Linked DNA regions of Homo sapiens: region 2 is linked to region 1. A link means that fine-mapping ties the variant in region 1 to the expression of a gene that starts in the linked region. Tissue or cell type: whole blood. Region 1 holds a variant in brackets; the other region holds the start of a gene. All regions are shown on one strand. Distances are from middle to middle.

Region 1 (2,500 bases):
TTGAACCCAGGAGGCGGAGGTTACAGTGAGCCGAGATTGCGCTATTGCACTCCAGCCTGGGGGACAAGAGCAAGACTTCATTTCAAAAAAAAAAAAAAAAAAAAAAAACCCCACAAAACCTAGGGCTTTTCTCAAGAATTTTATAACAAATCAAAGTCCAGGTCAGAAACTACAGACATAAGTAACTTACTGATTATTCTAAGAATGACTGCTTGCCAAAGAGTTTTATTTCCAAACTTAGTTCCTCCATTTGTGGTTGGGGGTAACTGGGAGTTTATGGAGCTTTAGGATGAACTTGACAAACTTGTTAGAATGTCAGTTTTACTGGAAGATTGGTGAAGTGGTGTCAAGGTTAGGAGGTTCGGTACTTTAACTGGTAAGGAATTTAAATGTTTTTAATAATGAAAATTATGACATAGAAATCAAAATTCACATACGTTTTTTGAGATGAAATAAGCTATTTTGGCTGGGCGCGGTGGCTCATGCCTGTAACTCCAGCACCTTGGGAGGCCAAGGCAGGTGGTTCACCTGAGGTCAGGAGTTAGAGACCAGCCTGGCCAACATGGAGAAACCCCATCTCTACTAAAAATACAAAACTTAGCTGGGTATGGTGGCCCATGTCTGTAGTCTCAGCTACTTGGGAGGCTGAAGAACGAGGATCGCTTGAACTCGTGAGGCAGTGGTTGCAGCGAGCCGAGATCGTGCCATTGCACTCCAGCCTGGGTGACAGAATGCAGTGGTGCTCACCTGTAATCCCAGGTACTCTGGAGGCTGAGGCAGGAGATTCGCTTAAACCTGGGAGGCGGAGGTTGCGGTGAGCCGAGATCACGCCACTGCACTCCAGCCTGGGCTACAGAGCGAGACTTTGTCTCAAAAAAAAAAAAAAAAGAATGAATATCAAAATAATTATGCTGAGTGAAAGCCAGAACTCCTGAGAGAGAGAGAAAGAAAAAGAGCAAGAGAGTGAGAGAGAGAATGAGAAAGAATGTGGTATTAAGCCTAAAATACCCATGATATATATATATATATGTGTGTGTGTATATATATATATATGTGTGTATATATATATGTGTGTGTGTGTGTGTGTGTGTGTGT[G/GTA]TATATATATATATATATATATTTGGCTTATAACTCCCATAGTCTTTGTTACAGTCTTTTGTTATAATGGTGCATGTGTTAGGCCTCAGGGGGAGACCTCAGGAAACAGAATCTCTCTGACCTACTCCTGCCATCCTTTTACCTGCCCCAAGGCAGGACTCTAAAATTCCAAACCCTCCTTTCTAATTATGGGTCATAAGACCCTCATTCCAGAGAGGGTCCCACTCATACGCTGGGGGAAGTAATACTGACATGAAGCTTCCATAAAAATCCTAGAGGGGATGGGTGCGGTGGCTCACGCCTGTAATCCCAGCACTTGGGGATCACAGCACTTTTGGGAGGCTGAGGAGGGAGGATCACCTGAGGCCAGGAGTTCGAGACCAGCCTGGTCAATATGGTGAAACCCTGTCTCTACTAAAAAATACAAAAATTAGCTGGGCATGGTGGTGCACGCCTGTAATCCCAGCTACTCGGGAGGCTGAGGCAGGAGAATTGCTTGAACCCAGGGGGCAGAGACTGCAGTGAGCCAAGATTGTACCACTGCACTATAGCCTGGGTGACAGAGCGAGACTCTGTCTCCAACAAACAAAAAACCCTAGAGGACTGAGTTTGGAGAGCTTATGGATAGCTGAACATGCGGAGGTTTCTGGAGGGTGTCACACAAAGGGAGGGTATGGAAGCTCTGCACCCCTTCCCCCATCCCTTACCCTAGCATCTCCTCATCTGTATCCTTTATAATAAACCAGTAAACATTTCTCTGAGTTCTGTGAGTGGTTCCAGCAAATTAATTGAACCCAAAGAGGGCTTCATGGGAACCCCAACATGAAGCCTATCAACTGGTGTGCGTCGGGGGGCAGTCTTGTGACTGAGCACTTAAATGGATCTGACACTATCTGACATAATTTCCAGGTAGATAGTGTTAGAATTGATTTGGAGGACACCTAGCTGATACCTACTGCAGAATTAATTGGTCGCTTGGTGGTGGGGAGAAATCTCCACACATTTGGTCACTAGAAGTCTTCTGTGGTGATGATTGTTGTTGTAGTGGTGTGAGAGCAGAGGAAAAACATGGTTTTAGAGTTTTTCCAAAAGAGAGTGAGAGAGCAAGAGAGAATACATCATGTGATTCCATTTATATTAAAAGTCTAGAAAATACAAACCAATCCTTAATGACAGAAAGCAGCTTAGTGCTTTTCTAGGGATAGGATTAGGGGCAGAGAGAGGAGAGAAGGACTTTAAAGCGGCATAAGAAAAACTTTCAGGGGTGACACATGATCATTATCTTGATTTTTATTAGTTTTATATAAATAGTATACAATCAAACCTGAATAAAGGTGGGAAAAATGTGAAAAAAAATAATCCAAGTAGCTTTTCTTTTCTTTTCTTTTTTTTGGGACAGAGTCTC
Region 2 (2,742 bases), 73 kb after region 1:
GCAGAGAGAACAAGATAAAGAATGGGCACTTCCTTATAATGGTTTCCTGGGAAAAGCTCACCACCTTCTGAGAAGCAGGAGAAATGACCACGCAGACCCTGCAGGCAGAGGCTGTCAGTCTCTGAGCCCGGGCCATGGCTGCTCCTTGTGTCAAAGGAAATGCTACCAAGTGTGTAGCCCGCCTGCCTGGGGCACCTAAGCTGAGGGTTTGACCATGTGCTTGATGTTCATAGGTAAAACAACTGCTGCGACCTGCACTGGCCCAGCCCGGAGTGCCTGTGAGGGGCCAGCTGCCTGTTCTGCCAGTTTGCCTAGAGGGCTGGGACAGGCTTGGCCCTGTGGATAAGGTTCAAACTCCCCTGCCTGCGGAAGGAAGAATGTGAAGCAGAGGGAAAGGAAGCTGGGATTTTGACTGTCTCTGTGTGCCCAGCCTGCTCTTTGCTGGTGCAGTAGTGGGATCCACAAGGTGAACCACCCTGTGACTGCTGACTTTTCCCACCACCACCTTCGTGGTGTTCCCATCTGCTGGATCCCCCTCCCAAACATCAGTCCTTGTCAGGATACCAAAGTAGCTCTTGGCCTCGCCGGTCTTGTAGCCAAGCTTATGAGCATAGTTGTCACCTTCCCCACCTCCCACCAAAAGTCCGGGATTTTCACGAGGGGAGCGTTTTATCTTTGGGCCCCTAGAAGAGTGCTTTGTAGTTTGTAGGTCCTCAGAAATTTGAGGTGAAGATTGAACCAATCATCAAGGAGCTTACACTTGACGTGGGAATCACGTAAGTTACCGCTAAACCACAAAGGTAGACCAGCCTCCCACAGCCACAACCTGGGCACTGAGGGAGGAGCCTGGAAGAAGGGCATTCCCATGGAACGTGAACTCCAGGAGGGCAGAACCTTGGTTTTGTTCACTCTATCCCCAGCCCCTAGAACTGTCCTGGCAAGGAGTAATAATAAGTGTTGGATGGATGAATATACTCACGGAAGTGGGAATGGGTGGGTGGAGGCAGGAAGCAGATATTTGCGCTATGCAGAAGTTGGATCCACCAGTTTCTTCCGCGAGCCCAGACTGGGCTTCAGCTTCCTCACCTATGCCTTTCTTGGTTCCCAAGTCTGTTGCGAAGCCACAGTGAGAGAAAGTGGCAGGACTAAAGGTGGTACAAATGCCAGAGGCTGATACTGCTGTGCTGCGCCTCCCTAGGCTGTACAAATTCTCCTCAGCCCCAGCTCCCTGGTCCCCAGCCTGGCCCTCTACTGCGGGCCACTGGGCTGCCTCCCGTACCCGAGCCTGGGCCAGGCTGTCACTGTGGTGCTCCTGCCAACCCAGATGCCCTGGGGTGTTGCTAAATCAACCTCAGCAACCGGATAGTTTGTTGGAGGCGGGAAGGTACGCCGTGGGTTCCGCCGCAGCCAGCGCTGGGGCTAGGCACACGCCCGTTGCCATGGAGACGGGGCGGGGCAGGCCTCCGCCCTCCGGGTCCCGCGCGCACGCGCCCACGGCCACGGCCATGTCCCGCCGCGAGAGGGGGCGGAGCGAGCGTGCGCGGCGGGCGCGCGCAGGCTCCGTAACCGAACCCTGAGCCGCCTGCGCGGATCGGCGTCCGCAGCGGGCGGCTGCTGAGGTGAGGGCCGGGCCAGAGGAGAGGCATACCCACTGGGGCGTAGGTCTGGGACTCCCCCTGTCCGCCCTGGCGCGACCTCAGGACTCTCCGTGTCCCCTCCGTGACCCCCGCGGCCCGGGCCGCTCTTTGCATCTTGTCTTGCCCACAGCTGGCCTCGGCCAGGTCCGAGGGCCTGGATGCGACCTTGGGGCAGCCCCTACTCTTCCGGGCAGCCCACTTCCGCGGCCACCGGTGCAGGGCATGCCCCGGGGCCGTGGAGGTGAGGGAAAGAGGCGCGAGTCGCGTTTTAACTCCGCCCCCGTCCCCCAAGGCCGCGCCTCGCAGCCTGGGCTGCAAACTTTAGCGTCCTTTAAGTTACAGACGTGCGTGGGGCTCCGTGAGGAGGTGGGCGAAGAGAAAGGCTCTGAGTAAATAGGCAAGGCCCGGGGTGAGCAGGGGCTGGAATCCGAAAGTGGGAGGCGGCGGCCCCCCACCCTCCATAGTCCTTCCGCCCTCTGCTAGCACCGAAGTTTAGCCCAGGACGGGGGCCGTTTAAGGGCCCGGCCCTCCGCCGCCGCGCACGTGAGCGGCACCAGGAAGCTGGCTGGGCGCAGCCTTCCCTGAGGCTCGCTGGCACCGGCCGCACGCGTCCATCCCGGGCCTCTGAGCGGAGGGGGAGCCGAGGCTAGAGGGAGGGCGCAGTCTGCCCAAGGTCAGCGGCAGCGGCAGTTTCTGGGCGCCAAGTGTGATTGGAGTACTCCAGGAAGAGGGGCGTGACCAGAGCTCTAGCGAAGAGACCTGACATTGTAAAGCTAGGTTTGGCTTCTGATTTCCACAGGGGGTTTGAGAATGGGACGAGGGTGCTTTAGAGGGACCGGTAGGCTTTCCCTGAGGACGGTAATCAGGGCATGATGGTTGGCTCAGTGGTTATTTCCTGGGCAGGGGTGACTGTTCTTTCAGCTCCCAGCACTGGAGCGCTCGGCCCCTGCCGCACTGGATGCCAGCAGTTACTAAAAGTGAGCCTGGCATTTCAGGTGAGCTCCCAGACCTTCTTCCTTTTCTCTTGAATATAGGGGAAATTCACGTTACCTCTCCACGTGCCGACCAAGGCTCTGAGACCCCCAGGTGGGTTTTCTTCCCCCCC

Evidence for each region. PIP is the estimated chance that this variant, and not a neighbour inherited with it, causes the effect.
Region 2: it holds the start of TEX264, and the variant in region 1 is fine-mapped to the expression of TEX264 in whole blood (INTERVAL, PIP 0.98).

The regions. Positions count from the first base shown.
Region 1 is chr3:51,597,082-51,599,581 of GRCh38, forward strand. All of the region lies in intron 3 of RAD54L2 (RAD54 like 2), which reads left to right. Among named protein-coding and RNA genes, the nearest start is that of RAD54L2, 60 kb to the left of the region's middle. The variant G/GTA (reference allele first, on the strand shown) is at 1,096.
Region 2 is chr3:51,669,670-51,672,411 of GRCh38, forward strand. TEX264 (testis expressed 264, ER-phagy receptor) reads left to right here and starts at 1,583. Exons shown (of 5, transcript NM_015926.6): 1 at 1,583-1,619. It overlaps LOC124906237 (a long non-coding RNA gene), which reads right to left and starts at 1,436. Exons shown (of 2, transcript XR_007095907.1): 1 at 980-1,436. RefSeq lists a silencer at 1,319-1,748.